Linked DNA regions of Homo sapiens. Changing the gene in region 1 together with any one later gene gives a genetic interaction. Each region holds a gene or a part of one and is shown in the gene's direction. Other genes may lie near its edges.

What was found. A genetic interaction does not mean that the proteins touch.
Region 2: changes in PBRM1 (region 1) and MAPKAP1 together harm fitness more than expected from each alone (negative genetic interaction), as found in Homo sapiens cells (one large-scale study listed by BioGRID).
Region 3: changes in PBRM1 (region 1) and AHR together harm fitness more than expected from each alone (negative genetic interaction), as found in Homo sapiens cells (one large-scale study listed by BioGRID).
Region 4: changes in PBRM1 (region 1) and ENTPD8 together harm fitness more than expected from each alone (negative genetic interaction), as found in Homo sapiens cells (one large-scale study listed by BioGRID).

What each region holds. Positions count from the first base shown.
Region 1 is NC_000003.12:52,587,670-52,592,762, reverse strand, and holds part of PBRM1 (protein polybromo-1), read left to right. Parts: intron 1-3,507; coding exon 3,508-3,693; intron 3,694-5,093. UniProt on the Homo sapiens protein: Involved in transcriptional activation and repression of select genes by chromatin remodeling (alteration of DNA-nucleosome topology). Required for the stability of the SWI/SNF chromatin remodeling complex SWI/SNF-B (PBAF).
Region 2 is NC_000009.12:125,699,913-125,704,208, reverse strand, and holds part of MAPKAP1 (target of rapamycin complex 2 subunit MAPKAP1), read left to right. Parts: intron 1-4,296. UniProt on the Homo sapiens protein: Component of the mechanistic target of rapamycin complex 2 (mTORC2), which transduces signals from growth factors to pathways involved in proliferation, cytoskeletal organization, lipogenesis and anabolic output.
Region 3 is NC_000007.14:17,329,652-17,333,947, forward strand, and holds part of AHR (aryl hydrocarbon receptor), read left to right. Parts: intron 1-300; coding exon 301-424; intron 425-1,104; coding exon 1,105-1,235; intron 1,236-4,260; coding exon 4,261-4,296. UniProt on the Homo sapiens protein: Ligand-activated transcription factor that enables cells to adapt to changing conditions by sensing compounds from the environment, diet, microbiome and cellular metabolism, and which plays important roles in development, immunity and cancer.
Region 4 is NC_000009.12:137,433,068-137,436,110, reverse strand, and holds the end of ENTPD8 (ectonucleoside triphosphate diphosphohydrolase 8), read left to right. Parts: coding exon 1-98; intron 99-281; coding exon 282-392; intron 393-772; coding exon 773-907; intron 908-1,005; coding exon 1,006-1,197; 3' UTR 1,198-1,747; downstream 1,748-3,043. Other genes in the region: NOXA1 (NADPH oxidase activator 1), read right to left, coding at 1,751-1,908, 2,032-2,146, 2,247-2,361, 2,504-2,658, 2,848-2,906, 3,037-3,043. UniProt on the Homo sapiens protein: Canalicular ectonucleoside NTPDase responsible for the main hepatic NTPDase activity. Ectonucleoside NTPDases catalyze the hydrolysis of gamma- and beta-phosphate residues of nucleotides, playing a central role in concentration of extracellular nucleotides.

The sequences.
Region 1 (5,093 bases):
ATTCTACCAGATGTACAAAGAAGAGCTGGTACCATTTCTACTGAAACTGTTCCAAATAACTGAGGAGAAAGGACTCCTCCCCAACTCATTCTTTGAGGCCAGCATCATCCTGATACCAAAACCTGGCAGAGATAACAGAAAAAACTAGGCCAGTATCCTTGATGTTTATTAATGCAGAAATCCTTAAGAAAATAACTAGCAAACCAAATCCAGCAGTATATCAAATAGCTAATCCACCATGGTCAAGTAGGCTTTATCCCTGGGATGCAAGGTTGGTTCAGCATACGCAAATCAATAAATGTGATTCATCACATAAAAAAGAACTAAAGACAGCCAGGTGTGGTGGCTCATGCCTGTAATCCCAGCACTTTGGTAGGCCAAGGTGGGTGGATCACCTGAGGTCAGGAGTTCGAGACCAGCCTGACCAACATGGTGAAACCCTGTCTCTAGAAACAATACAAAAATTAGCCAGGTGTGGTGGCACGCACCTGTAGTCCTAGCTATTCGAGAGGCCGAGGCAGGAGAATCACTTGAACCCAGGAGGCAGACTGCAGTGAGCCAAGATCGCACCACTGCACTCCAGCCTGGGCGACAGAGCGAGAATCCATCTCAAGTCTTAAAAAAAAAAAAAAAAAAAAAACCTGGTGCAGTGGCTCACACCTGTAATCCCAGTACCTTGGGAGGCTGAGGCGGGTGGATCACAAGGTCAGGAGTTCAAGACCAGCCTGGCCAAGATGGTGAAACCCCATCTCTACTAAAAATACAAAAATTAGCCGGGCATGGTCGTGGGCACCTGTAATCCCAGCTACTTGGGAGGCTGAGGCAGGAGAATTGCTTGAACCTGGGAGGCAGAGGTTGCAGTGAGCCGAGATGGCGCCACTGCATTCCAGCCTGGGCATCAGAGCATCAGAGCAAGACTATGTCAAAAAAAAAAAAAAAAAAAAAGGCCGGGCGCAGTGGCTGACGCCTGTAATCCCAACAGCTTGGGAGGCCGGGGCGGGTGGATCACGAGGTGAGAAGTTCAAGACCAGCCTGGCCAAGATGGTGAAACCCCATCTCTACTGAAAATACAAAAATTAGCCGGGCATGGTGGTGGGCATCTGTAATCTCAGCTACTCAGGAGGCTGAAGCTGGAGAATTGCTTGAACTTGGGAGGCGGGGGTTGCAGTGAGCCGAGATCATGCCACTGCACTCCAGCCTGGGAGACAAGAGCAAGACTCCGTCTCAAAAAAAAAAAAAAAAAAAAAAAAACAAAGACAAAAACTACATTATCTCAATAGATGTAGAAAAGGCTTTTTGACATATTAAAAACTCTAGATAAACTAGGTATTAAAGAAACATACTTCTAAATAATAAGAGCCATCTATTACAAAGCCACCCAACGTCATGCTGAAATAACCAAAAGCTGGAAACATTCCCTTTGAAAACTGACACAAGACAAGAATGCTGTCTCCCACCACTCCTATTCAACATAGTACTGGAAGTCCTGGCCAGGGCAGTCAGGTAAGAGAGAGAAATAAAGGGTATTCAAATAGGAAGAGGGAAGTCAAACTACGTCTCTTTGCAGATGACTTAATTCTATATCTAATAAACCCATAGTCTCAGCCCAAAAGCTCCTTCAGCTGATAAACTTCAGCAAAGTGTCAGGATACACAATCAGTATACAAAAATCACTATCATTCTTATACACCAATAGCAGCCAAGCCAAGAGCTAGATCAGGAACGCATTGTCATTCACAATTGCCACAAAAAGAATAAAATACCTGGAAATACAGCTAACCAGGGAGGTGAAAGATCCCTACAATGAGAATTACTCACTGCCCAAAGAAATCAGAGATGACAGATGCAAATGGGAAAACATTCCATGCTCATGGATAGGAAGAATCAATGTTATTAAAATGGCCATACTGCCCAAAGCAATTTACAGATTCAGTCCTAATCGTATGAAATTACCAATGACATTCTTCACAGAACTAGAAAAACTATTTTAAAATTTAGATAGCCAGGCACGGTGGCTCACGCTTGTAATCCCAGCACTTTAGGAGGCTAAGGCGGGCAGATCACTTGAGGTCAGGAGTTCAAGACTCTGGGTGACAGAGTGAGACTGTCTAAAAAAAGAAAAAGAAAATTTAATGTTTCAGGAGGAATAAAATAAATAACATTTAAAATGCTTATTATTAGCTCTTCCATTTATGGGAAATTAACCTAAGGAAGTAATCAAAGATTTGGGCAAAGCTTTATCCTCAATAAAAACCCTGTGATATTTGCAAACGATAGCTTGTACTGGAACTTTTTTTTTTTTCTTTTGAAATGGAGTATTGCTCTGTCACCCAGGCTGGAGTGCAGTGGCCTGATCTTGGCTCACTACAACATTCACCTCCCAGGTTTAAGCGATTCTTCTGTCTCAACCTCCCAAGTAGCTGGGACTACAGGCACCTGCCATCATGCTGGCTAATTTTTTAATATTTTTAGTAGAGATGGGGTTTCACCATGTTGGCCAGGCTGGCCTTGAACTCTTCTTGACCTCAAGTGATCCGCCCGCCTCGGCCTCCCAAAGTGCTGGGATTACAGGCGTGAGCTGCCGCTACCGGCCTGTACTGGAACTATTAATAAGTTTTACTTAACAAAAATAAAAGTCATCTGGGCGCGGTGGCTCACGCCTATAATCCCAGCATTTTGGGAGGCTGAGGCAGGCGGATCTCAGGTCGAGAGATCGAGACCAGCCTGACCAAGATGGAGAAACCCCATCTCTACTAAAAATACAAAATTAGCCAGGCGTGGTGGTGCATGCCTGTAATCCCAGCTACTCGGGAGGCTGAGGCAGGAGAATTGCTTGAACCTGGGAGGCAGAGGTTGTGGTGAGCTGAGATTGTGCCATTGCACTCCAGCCTGGGCAACAAGAGCGAAACTCCGTCTCGAAAAAAATAAATAAATAAAAATAAAAGTCATTTTGAAAAGCATTTCCTCTCAGGGCTAGTGTTCTTGATATATTAAGTATATATACTAGATATAGTTTATAGTATATTGTAGAATATATGTATTCTATATTTCTTCAATTCTAAGACTCCATTAAATGTGTCATATTCGTGTAATAACTTAGTGAAATGAAACACATTAAGAAGCATTAAGGTGGGGATGAAGTATATCAGAGATTATCTCTAGAATTACTTGATTCGAAACGACATACGTACTTCTTTGTGCCTTTCGATATTATCCAAAATGTCCATATGATCATATATTAGTAAGGTGATGTTTTTATTCTCTACATCCTTTGTGTAGTTATATATTCATTTAAATTAATGATGGTTGTAATTCAAAGATAGTTTTGAGTAGAGGCTATTAGGAATGTGAAGATCATACTATTGCTGATTCCTGCCTTCGCATGTTGCAAATGGAATTAAATGTATTAAATGTATTATTAGTATGTGTTGTTTGAACCCTACATCTGACTTCAGCATCCCTTTGGTGAGTACCTTTTTCCTTTATTTATTTATTTTTTTACCTAAGAAGCTGAAAAGAGTGAAGATTCCTCTGGTGCTGCAGGCCTCTCAGGCTTACATCGCACATACAGCCAGGACTGTAGCTTTAAAAACAGCATGTACCATGTTGGAGATTACGTCTATGTGGAACCTGCAGAGGCCAACCTACAACCACATATCGTCTGTATTGAAAGACTGTGGGAGGATTCAGCTGGTAAGTTTGTTTTAAATCAAAGGACAGTTTAGTGAGATATGACTGTTTGACTTCTCCTTGCTCCTCAGGGAAGAAAATTTTAACTCAGACATCTTAAGCCTTTCCATAATAATTGTTCAATATGTCAATAAATGTAAGTAAGCACCCATCATATGAAAAACATAGGACCTATTGGGCAAGTGTCACAGTTGAGTCAAAAGAAATACAGCTTCTAGGTCGGGCGCGGTGGCTCACGCCTGTAATCCCAGCACTTTGGGAGGCTGAGGCGGGCAGATCACAAGGTCAGGAAATCGAGACCATCCTGGCTAACACAGTGAAACCCTGTCTCTACTAAAAAGATACAAAAAATGAGCTGGGCCTGGTGGCGGGCGCCTGTAGTCCCAGCTACTCGGGAGGCTGAGGCAGGAGAATGGCGTGAACCCAGGAGGCGGAGCTTGCAAGGGAGCCGAGATCACGCCACTGCACTCCAGCCTGGGTGACAGAGTGAGACTGTCTCAAAAAAAAAAAAAAAAAAAAAGAAAGAAATACAGCTTCTTAAAGTCTGGTTGAGATTCATTCATTCATTTGATACTTATTAAAAACATACTTTGAGCCAAACTTTATGTAGAGTGACATAGATTCAGAAGAACAAAAAGCTCATATTTTCCCTTGCAAAACTACTCCAGTAAGGAAGATTATGATCAAAAAAGAAATTATTATAGAATGACATGCCTTGGCTTAGCATTTGTTTTCAAAAAGGCTTTCTAGAACAGTTGCCTTTAAATTGAGACATGGAGTATGCATAGAAATTAATGAAGCCAGAAGTTGGTGGAAATGTGATCCAGGCAATCCAGTTCTTTGAGCTGCCTATCACATGAAATACTTTTGTATTCCTTCACCAGAGAGCTAAATATGTCCTTCAGTAGCATATCTGTCCCCTTACTAAAGTGCACAACTCTAGGTATGTACTAACCAGAGCAGAGTGGAGCAGGTCTCATCACCTGTCCTCCTCATTATGTACTTTATATGGCTTTTAATATGAAGAAGAGCCTGGGCAACATGGCAAGACCCCTTCTCTAGAAAAAATAAGAAAATCAGCAGGGTGTGATTGCACTTGCTGTGGTCCCAGCAACTTGAGAGGCTGAGGCAGGAGGATCACTTGAGCCCAAGAGGTTGAGGGTGTATATATATATATATGAGGGGGGAAAAGTAGCATGCATTTTTTAGGCCTCATTACACTTTATTATTTTTGAGTATTATTTCTCCTGTGGATAATTATATTAAACTGTAGCTGTAAAAATAAGCACAGTGCTAGGTTCATGTCATGGCAGAGTGGATTGATGGTGTATTTCCTAATTTTGCAAAGAATGTGTGATTTCTGAGCTGGACACAGTGACTTATACTTGTAGTCCCAGCTACTC
Region 2 (4,296 bases), on another chromosome or scaffold:
TTATCTGCTGAACACTGAGATCGGCACTCTTCATTACTACACCATGTTGCTTGTTCTTTGTGATGTGGATGCGGACCCTCTGGAAAGGCTTCAGAGAGAAACTTGCCCTTGAGCTGTAGCTTCAGTGTGCCAGTCATTGTGAGACAGGAGGGATCACGAGGAATGGAAGTGGCCTTTGCACTAAAGGAGCTCATAGCCTTATCTGTTACTTTAAATGTTTTTCTTTTTTGGTGGGGGAGCTTGTTTTGCTTATTGACTTATACCTGAAGACTTCAGAAACTTTTGCAGTTGAGTGGATTTATATGATTCAGCCTAAGATAATTTGCTGGCAATCTGTTATTCTGATGTATAGGCCTTACTGTTACGGACGCAGTTGTAGATGTCAAATTATTATATGACAAGGACTTCTGTCACGTTACTTGTTTTTTTTTTTTTTTTTGAGACAGTCTTGCTCTATCACCCAGGGTGGAGTGCAGTGGCATGATCTTGGCTGACTGCAACCTCTGCCTCCTGGGTTCAAGAGATTCTCTTGCCTCAGCCTCCCAAGTAGCTGGGACTATAGGCAGGTGCCACCACGCCTGGCCAATTTTTGTGTTTTTAGTAGAAACGGGGTTTTGCTGTGTTGGCCAGGCTGGTCTCAAACTCCTGACCTCAAGTGATCTGCCTGCCTCGGGCTCTCAAAGTGCTGGGATTACAGGCGTGAGCCACCATTCGTGGCCACATTACGTTTTTTCCCTATGGGAGGTGCCCTGACTTGTTTCTGTGAGTTCGAAGTTTTTGTGAAGTTTTTTGACTCAGAAGTCAGCATATTTCAGCTTGTGTTAAATTTAAGAGGCTTAGTGGTTAAATATGTTACTTAAGAGTCACAGAGCTAATGTGTGATAGAGCCACAAAAAACTGGCCAAAAAAGAGTAAACAAATCTTCATTAAATTATTATTATTGTTCTGTTTGAGCATCTTCCTCAGTGGTCTCCAAGTCCGATGCCTGTTATGTACTAGGATGAGTAGGCTGGGCCTTGATGAACTGGAGAGCACGGGCCCAAACTAAAGGGAGCAGTTGCTGCTCAGCTCCACTTGCTTGTTGCCATGTGAGGAAGTGGGCCCAGTGTCCTTGGATCTTTTGACACTTTTTGGAAAAGATGCTGGAAATCTGGATTTTAATTTATTCTTATTTATTTATTTAACTTTTAGAGACAGGGTATCGTCCTATCAGGCTAGAGTGCAGTTTCGTGGTAATAGCTCACTACAGCCTTGAATTCTGGGCTCAAGTGATCCTCCCACCTCTGCCTCCCCAATAGCTAGGACTACAGGCGCATGCCACTATGTGTAGCTAGTTTTTTTTTTTTTTCTTTTTTTGAGACAAAGTCTCGCTCTTGTTGCCCAGGCTGGAGTGCAGTGGCATGACCTTGGCTCACTGCAATGTCCGCCTCCCGGGTTCAAGCGATTCTCTTGCCTCAGCCTCCTGAGTAGCTGGGACTACAGGTGCCCATCACCACGCCCAGCTAATTTTTGTATTTTTAGTAGAGACAGGGTTTTGCCGTGTTGGCCAGGCTGGTCTTGAACTCTTGACCTCAAGTGATCCGCCTGCTTCAGGCTCTCAAAGTGCTGGGATTACAGGGGTGAGCCATTGCATCCGGCCATGTACTAGCTAGTTGTTGCTTTTATTTTTTTTGTGGGAAGGAGTTTCGCTCTTGTTGCCCAGGCTGGAGTGCAATGGCGCGATCTTGACTCACTGCAACCTCCACCTCCTGGGTTCAAGCAATTCTCCTGCCTCAGCCTCCTGAGTAGCTGGGATTACAGGTATGCGCCACCACGCCTGGCTAATTTTGTATTTTTAGTAGAGGCGGGGTTTCTGCATGTTGGTCAGGCTGGTCTCGAACTCCCGACCTCAGGTGATCCACCTGCCTTGGCCTCCCAAAGTGCTGGGACTACAGGCGTGAGCCACTGCGCCCGGCCTAATTTTTAAAAAAATTTTGTAGAGATGGTGTCTATCTATGTTGCCTAGGCTGGTCTTGAACTCCTGCCTTCAAATGATACTCCTGCCATGGCCTCCCAAATTGTTGGGATTACAGGTGTGAGCCACTGCATGTCGTGGATTTTAATGTATTTAGTTTAAAAATTTGCCATTAAAAATTATGTTGATCAAAACATATTTGTGGGCTGAGTGTAATTCTAGGCTGCCTGATTGTGAACTCCAACCTACCTGGCTGCTGAAATTTTGGTACCTGTTGTTCAGAGCAGGAAGTATACAATACAATGTTTTGATTATTGATTAGAAATCTCATGGTAAATTGCCAGTGTGAGGGGGCATTGTAGCTTGCGCTGATAGTTTTGGAGAGTGGCAAGGTCAATGCTTTTATTGTATAATCAAGCTAAAGTATAGATCTGGCTGGTGAGATGACCTTATAACACTTCTATTTTGTGCTCTTAGCACTTTAAATGCTACCAGATTTCTTGTCTCTTGGCCCTCTCCACAATAGTATGAAGTGGTATGGTAAATTTGTTAAATGCTCTTGTATACCTTATTTTCTTTAGTCTTCATAGTCCTATGAGATAGGTAGTATTACAAAGGGGGTAATCATCACCTCTTGAGATGAAGAAATCGGCACCCAGTGAATCACAGTTTAGTGGAAAGAGCAGTTGACTAGAGAGGGTGTTGCATCCTGAATATGCGGATACCACTAACAGCCAGTGAATCACAGTTTAGTAGCAAGTGCAGTTGACTAGAGAGTGATTTGCATCCTGAATATGCGGATACCGCTAACAGCCTTTGGAGTTTGGTCACGTCACTTACAAATCCTCGGATCTTTTTTCCTTTTTGGATAAATAATGAGGAGTAAAATTCAAGTCTTGCTGAAATTCAATTCGTAATATCCTATACTTGAGTATACTTTTACTAATATACTTTTATTACTGATGCAAAGTATACTGAATGTGTAAAACTTCAAAAAAATAACATTTTCCAGTTCCCTGCGGACTCATTTTAAGGTACTGTGTTACAAATAAGTACCATTTCAGCAGAGAAATTGGTAGAAAATTGAAGGAATGGTTTTCTTTTCGGGATGCCAAGCTTTCTGTTTCTAATTGATATGCTTAAAGTCACACAACTGATTACTGGCAGACTCCAGTGGAGATGACTCAAATCTAAAATGCTGCCCCTCCTCTCTTGCTGGCAGGTCAGGAACCACTACTCAGCTCTTCATCTGTTCTTTATTCATTACTTCCTCTGGGAAAGGCCCTTGATGGGCCAGGTGCTCCCCCAGTGCATGCAGTGCCTATTGACTATATGTACTCAAGATTGAAAGGGGGCGTAGAGACACCCAGCACAGTGAGAGAAATATGGTCAGGGAGTTCCCAGCCCAAGAGTTTAATTTATTTTTATTTTAATACCCAGCTTTCACAAGGTGAAAATTGAAGAAATACTGGTCTTGTAGATACTTGTTTTCATTCATACTCTATTGTATAAGGAAATAACAGAATATAAAAATAAAGGGAATAAATCCTGAGCAGTCATTCAAAATTTATTAACTCTAGTTGGCAGCAGTCTAGATATATTGGGGAAATGGATTTAATATAGGCAACACAAAATTTGGACTGAAAGTAGAATACAGTTTTATGTAATTGAAAGTGAGAAAAATGGGAGAAACCACTTAAAAAACAAACCCGAAACTCTAGAAAGAACAAGAAGGTATTAGAATAACTATTGGAATTAAGTTATAGTAATTGCTTGTGAAATAAGTGGAATATTATGTCACATTTATGCCTAAATATAAGCAGTGTTAGATTCTTAATATCCTATACGTGAGTATACTTTTATGAATATACTTTTATTATTGATGCAAAGTGTACTGAATGTGTAAAACTTCAAAAAAAATAACATTTTCCAGTTCCTTATGGACTCATTTTAAGGTACTGTGTTATAAATAAGTACCATTTCAGCAGAGAAATTGGTAGAAAATTGTTTGAAGGAATGGTTTTCTTTTGAAAATAAAGCGAGTATTTAATCTGAACCTTAGTTACTGACATAAAGGAGACTAACGAAGAACTGAAGTGCAGACTTGAATTTTAAGCAGTGTGACATGGGGCTTTGGGCAGACCCGCTTGGATTTGATTATTGGCTTTGTCAGTCTGTAAGCTGGACAGTCTGCAAAATGGGGACAGTAATGCCAATCTCACATAGTCCTTAGTGAGGACTAAATGAAACAATATATGTAAGTACCTTGTAAGTACTGTAGTGCTTCTGGAGAGATGCAGGTCCAGGCTGAGCATCCCTACTCAAAATATTCAAAATCTGGG
Region 3 (4,296 bases), on another chromosome or scaffold:
GGAACATAAACAGATTTTAATATGTTGCATTTAAGGAATGGGGATGTGACTTATTTGAGCAAGAGCATTCATGTTGGGAACTGATGACAAGTAACTTTTGGCTTATCTGTTGTAGTGCCAGTCTCTTTAGCTTTTTCTACCTTAGGTTCTATCTTAGGTGACTAGGGAATTTTAGGAATCATTCAATTCGTATTCATCACCACTAGCAAGCACCCACTAATCTAAATAGGCTTTAAAATTAATTTAGCCATATTTTTTAATCAGTCCTTTTGTTGTATTCCTTGTATCTTTTTTCTTTAGTCTGATGTCATACATCAGAGTGTATATGAACTTATCCATACCGAAGACCGAGCTGAATTTCAGCGTCAGCTACACTGGGCATTAAATCCTTCTCAGTGTACAGAGTCTGGACAAGGAATTGAAGGTAAGAATTGATGGTACAAAAAATAGTGTTGGTAGTTTTTAAATATGAGTCTGTGAAAGGAGGCTGGGAACCTGTAGGGTCATAGAACTCCATGATAGGGAAGTAGTGGAAAGATGTAAAGTCTGCAATCATAGGCCACAGCTAGGTCACAAAGAGCCTGATGAGCTAAGGAATATTTTGGCAAATGAGAGCCATTTAATGAGTTTCAGGCAACAGAGTATTGCCATAGTCAGTAATGTATTTTATAAAAATAAGTAGTACCTTCATGAAAGATGGAAGGAAGGTACAAGGTTGATACCTGAGTGCATGTAAATTATTGTGTTTAAAATGCACCAAAGAAAAAAGTAAGCTAGCATATGCAAGTATAAAAATGCTTTTCTCAATGCAAAAAATGTTTTTGGAAATTTGTTAAAGTGTTAAGAAAACAAAAATGCATTAGAAAATATGAAAATTGTTGACAGTGATAGCTCAATAAAAATTTAAAAAATTATGCAAGTTCTATCTGATAAAAGTGATATTTAATAAACTTTTAGTTTCTTGTCATTAGCTCTTTTGAAAATGATTTTTTTGTATTCAGAACACAGACTCCAGTTTAGAAACTAATACAAATTTTACCTATTCAAGTGCTTAATTTTACAGCAAAATGGAAAGTAAATTTTGTTTTGCCTTTATTTCTACAGAAGCCACTGGTCTCCCCCAGACAGTAGTCTGTTATAACCCAGACCAGATTCCTCCAGAAAACTCTCCTTTAATGGAGAGGTGCTTCATATGTCGTCTAAGGTGTCTGCTGGATAATTCATCTGGTTTTCTGGTAAGGTACAAAATTTTATGATACTGGCTTTTACTATTGTTACAATAAAAGCTTGAGGCAAATTTAATTTAGCAAAATATAATTCAGCAGAGAACTATTCCCAAATCAGGCAACCCTCAGAACCAGAGAGCTTCAGAGAGCTCACTTAAAAACATGGGCTGGAGCATTTATGAACAGAAAATGCAAGTGAGGTACAGAAATGGCTTGATTGATTACAGCTTGGGATTTGCCTTATTTGAAGATGATCTGATTAGTTGGCCACCTGTGACTGACTGAGACTCAGCTATTTGGTTACAAAAGTTTAATTCTACTGTTAGGCTTTCCGTTAGCTTATATAGTAAATGAAGTTGCAATTCCTTGGTAAGGACTTAAGGAGCAGAGGCATCTTCAGCCCAAATTTAGTTTAACATTAAGTTATAGAAAAAACAAGCCAATTTTCTTTGGTTATCTTTGATTTCAGCTTTAAAAATCTGCTACCAAATAATTTGATAAAGGAAAGTAACATTTTAAAGTAATTATTTCTGATTTTGACTATCTTCTATAACTCAGAAAACTGTTCTTTAGGATATAGTAACAAAAATTGAGTGAAATAACACGAAGCCTTGTATTTTGACTATTTTAGGATTTTTAAGGTATGAGAGAATTATGTAGCCCTTTTTTAATAGGAGGATGCTTACCATCTTGGGATTGAATGCCTGCTAGACAGAGAAATTATGGCCTTTCCATATGTCTCAAATAACTGCCACATAGAAAAACGATTGTATATTCATGATTGTGGAATCATCATTTGATAGGAGATGCTGTTTTCTTGTTACAAAGTCTGAACACCTGCATAGGAGTTGACTGTAGGGAACAGCTTAGGATTCCTCAGAGTGGACTTGTCTGTTATCTCATTGTATCCTTAGCTCATGTTACCAAGTACAGGAGAAGAAAATACAAAGTATATTGTATATTCTTTTTGTGAATAACAAGGAATTTGAAACAGATAATCAAATCTTAAATTAACATTACCAAGCAATGATTTTTGTTTATGTGTTTATTTCTGAAGAGGATTTTGCTGACCCAGAATTAGAATTATGCTTTGAGACAGTTTTCCCAGTGTTATTGCTCATGAACAATTAGTATGTAGAGTCATGTCCTGCATAATGATGCTTTGGTCAATAACAGACCATGTATATGATGGTAGTCCCATGAGATCATAATGGAGCCGAAAAATCCCTATCACTTAATGATGTCATAGCATTGCTCACATGTTGATGGTGATGCTGATGGAAGCAAACCTGTGTTGCCAGTCATATAAAAAGTATAGCACATACAATTATATATGATACATAATACTTGAAAATAAAACAATAATAAATCACTATGTATTTACTATTAATCATTATTTTACTTTATTTTTAAATGTATTATACTTTTAATTATTTTATTTTAATCATTATTTTAGAATAAGGTTAACTGTAAAACAGGCTCAGGCAGGTCCTTCAGGAAATATTCCAAAAGAAGGCATTGTTATCACAGGAGATGACAGCTCCATGCATGTTATTGCCCCCGCAGACCTTCCAGTGGGACAAGATGTAGAGGTGGAAGATAGGATCATTAATGATCCTCACCCTGTACAGACCTAAGCTAATGTGTGGGTTTGTGTCTTAGTTTTTAACAAAAAAAGTTTAAAAAGTAAAAAAATTAAAAATTAAAAAATAGAAGAAAGCTTATAGAATAAGGATATAAAGAAAGAAAATGTTTTTGTATGGCTGTACACTGTGTTTAAGTGTTATTACAGAAGAGTCAAAAGTTAAAAATGCAAAAGTTTATGAAGTAAAAATGTTACAGTAAACTGTGCTGGGATTACAGGCATAAGCCACTGCACCTGGCCAAAAGGAAAATATTTTTTATAAATTCAGCGTAGCCTAAGTGTATAGTGTTTATAAACTCTATAGTAGTGTACGGTAATGTCTCAGGCCTTCACATTCACTCACCACTCACTCACTGACTAAACCAAAGCAACTTTCAGTCCTGCCTACCTTGTTTACAATAAGTGCTCTTATACAGGTATACCATTTTTTGTCTTTTATACTGTATTTTTACTGTATATTTTCTATGTTTAGATACACAAATACTTACCATCATGTTACAATTGCTTTAAGTATTCAGTACGATAGCATGCTGTACAGGTTTGTAGCCTAGGAACAAAAGGCTATACTGTATAGCTTAGATGCGTAGTAAGCTATACCATCTAGGTTTGTGAACCTACCCTCTGATGTTCACAGGATAATGAAATTGCCTAAGGACACATTTCACAGAACATGCCCCTTTTGTTAAATGACATGTGAGTGTATGTCTGAGGTGGAATATCTGTGTGCAGGAGGGCCTTTTCCTCCTTGTGCTGCTATTATTTTGATGTCAGAACCATCCCTTGGACTGGTTGATATTGTTTTAAGCAATTAAATATATCATGTTCATGTTTAAGTGCCTTTGTTTTCCCTGTCTTCTAAATTTCTTCCATATCTTTACTCAGTAGGGCTCTGCATTCTTTATATGTTTTCATGATGATTCATTTTAGTGTCTTAATAAAATTATATTTTGCCTCTATAGAAAAGATTATGAACTATGCAGTATGCTATGAGCTGTGATATAGTTCATGTATGCTTGAAAATGAATGTTTACTTTAGGACTTTATCACCATTCAGGATATATTGATTGCCTGGTGTGCAAGGAGCTGTGTGAGGTGAAAATGATAGGGTAATGGCAAGCTTGGAAAATGATATAGGTTTTCATGTTATGACCATTAGGAACAAGGAGTGGTTCACTTATCCCTTTAGAATATTTTTCATATTACTCTTTGAGATAGATTTAATGGGCGTCCCATGGAGAGAGGAGTGAAGGAAACTAACAGTTCTCAGCTTCAGGAATATTTATGGAATTATCAAGAACCCTAGAGGCAGCCATAATGGAGCCTTTTAAAAAGGCACTATTTTATATTGTTAATTTTAATGAACTTTTTTGTTGTTGTTGCTTTTTTAAGGCAATGAATTTCCAAGGGAAGTTAAAGTATCTTCAT
Region 4 (3,043 bases), on another chromosome or scaffold:
CAGCCATCCGGGAACTTTTCAACTTCTCCAGCTGCCAGGGCCAGGAGGACTGCGCCTTTGACGGGGTCTACCAGCCCCCGCTGCGGGGCCAGTTCTATGTGAGCACCTACACTGCCCCCACCAGGGGTCCGGGCTTCCTTGTGAGGCCTCAGGTGCCTGTCTGACTCCAGCAGGCCCAGGAGGGGCCCAGGCTGGCTCTTAGGGGCTCTGGGAGCCCGGGTGGGGTGGATCTGGCCCAGCGTGGCCACAGCGAAGGCACAGCCACCTCCCCTCTCACTCAGGCCTTCTCCAACTTCTACTACACCTTCCACTTCCTGAACCTCACCTCCAGGCAGCCCCTGAGCACGGTCAACGCCACCATCTGGGAGTTTTGCCAGAGGCCCTGGAAACTGGTGGGTGGGCCCTGGGCTCCCTGGCTGCAGCGAGGGTCCCTGAGGGTACAGGGCTGCCTCGGGCAGGATGCTGGAGCCTCATTCTGGGCAGCACGGCCAGCAGGGCCGGGGGAGGCAAGGGCAGAGGACAGCTCCAGGCCGTGCCACTCCAGGTAGGAGGCTGTGGCCACGGCCGCAGCTGGGCCCAGCCTCTGGCCCGCCAAGAAGGGGCCGCAACCCGCACCACGTAACTGGTCGGTGGGGCCAGGGAGGGGCTCTCTACCACTGCCCGGCACCCTCTTGTTGTCTGCGTGCTCAGGTTGGCCAGGACAGATGGGGCGGTCCCCGCATGACTGGGGATCAGGGGCCCTCACCTCGCCTCTTGGTCTCCTGGGCCCCAGGTGGAGGCCAGCTACCCTGGGCAGGACCGCTGGCTGCGGGACTACTGTGCCTCAGGCCTGTACATCCTCACCCTCCTGCACGAGGGCTACGGGTTCAGCGAGGAGACCTGGCCCAGCCTCGAGTTCCGAAAGCAGGTGACTGCCTCCCCTGGGCGTGGGCGGGGCGTGGGCGTGGGCAGGTCGTGGTCCTGGGGTAGCTGCCCCGCAGCCCTGAGCAGCCGTGTGTCCCGCAGGCGGGCGGTGTGGACATTGGCTGGACACTGGGCTACATGCTGAACCTGACCGGGATGATCCCGGCCGATGCGCCGGCTCAGTGGCGGGCAGAGAGCTACGGCGTCTGGGTGGCCAAAGTGGTGTTCATGGTGCTGGCCCTGGTGGCGGTGGTGGGGGCTGCCTTGGTCCAGCTCTTCTGGTTGCAGGACTAGTGGGAAGGCGGAGGTGGGCCCCCACAGAGCCCACAGGCAGCTGCGTCCCGGATGCTGGAGGCTTCCTGAGCCCTGAGCGCCGTGGGGCCTTGCTCTGTGGCTCTGCCCACGGTCAGGTGACAGCCACCTCCAGGGCACCGTCAGGGTGGTGCTGGCCACAGAGGCTGCATGACCTCCCCTCCCGGCGTCCCTCCCCCAACCTCCTTCCGCAACTGGGCTTCCAGGGCCGTAGGTGCCTTTCTGCACACAGGCCGCCAGGACTCGTGGTGTCTCCAGGCTGTGTGACTGCAGGGCCACATGCTGCCTGCAAACAGGGCAAGACCACGGAGGCACAGGGGTCCTGCTCCTGATGGGGCCTCAGGAGGGGCGGAGAGGGGTGGAAGGGAGGGAGCTGCCCCACCTGGACCCCCGCTCTCCCTGCTGTTGTCTGAGCAGATGGATGGAGTCCAGGCCTGGGGGCTTCTGCTGGGCCAGCCCGGCCTCCCACACCCACTTGGAGGGTGAGACTGCAGTGGGGGTTGTTTTTATTAAAAGCATCATGGACACAGCATCATTAGGGCTGATCTCCCTGCTGGGATCGGGGCAGGCGGCCGGGGGCTCCTGACATCCGAGGGCCGGCGGGGACCACGAAGCACTTGGGGAAGATGCCGATGCGGCCGTCACAGTGGCCCTCCAGCCATGCCTGGTCCACTGCAAGGGGGACATCGGGCTCTGCAGGGCGTTACCCAGGCGTGGCCTCTGGGTGCCACGTCTGCTCACAGCACAGGCCGAGCTCTAAGCCCCCCACACCCCGGGCACCACGGTGCTGCCTGGGAAGGGCCATGCCCACCCTACCTTCACACAGGACGTCCACCGTGTCCCCCTGTCGGAAGCCCAGGTCCTCTGGCCCCTGGGCGGAGTAGCTGTGCTGGGCCACCACCTGGTAGAGGACCGGCCGACCCCCGGCTCCCTGAGGCAGGAGAGTGGGCTGCAGGTCGGGCCGGGCACTGGGAGGAGGGGCCTCCACCGCCCCTCAGGGTGCCCCTGCCCCTGCCTCGCCCTTGGCTCACCCTGCACTGCAGCTGCAGCCCCCTGGGGCAGGCAGCTGCGTCCTGCCAGGCCCTCTGCAGCGACTCCTCCTCGGGGATGGGGACCCAGTGCCCGTCCTCACCTGGGGCTAGGTAACTGCAAAGAGATTCCTCAGAGGGGGCCTCCTGGGTGGGGCCTGCAGGGAGGGCAGTGACCTCTGCCACCCCCTCTTCCAGCAGCTGCCTCAGTCGGGGCGGTGCCCAGCTCCACCGCAGCCACCGGGGGCTTTCTGGCCCACCTGAGTTGCCCAAGCTGGGCCTGGTGAGGGAGGGCTTGGCCCAGCAGTGCCCGCAGGCTGGACAGGTCGGCTCCTCTTCGTGCCCTCAGGGCCACTGTGAAGGCGCACTGCACGGTGACAGTCACCAGGGGCTCGGAGCCCCCTGCACCTGCTCCCTGGGTCCAGGCAGGAGGGGGAGGGGTGGTCGCTGAGGCCCAGGGCCTGGTCAGGGCCGTCTTCAGCCCGAGGGGTGTGGACAGAGACTGGGCAGGTGAGGGGGGCTTGCAAGCCTTGATTCTGAGGGATGGGGCTTGGCCTCAGCCTCCCTCAGGTGACTGACAGGTGAAGGGTCTAGAGCCTCTTACCCCAGCACCCGCGGGGTCCTCACAGGGGCCGGGGCCAGGCCCCCCCATTGCCGGCAGCCCTGTAGGACAGAGCAAGACTGACACAGCCACTACCACCAAAGTGGGCCCTGTGGGTGGAGGGCAGCCGGCACCCATGCACCAGCAGCTTCCTCCTTCACCCGGGGACCCCGCCGCTGAGGACGCCCATACCTGGGGA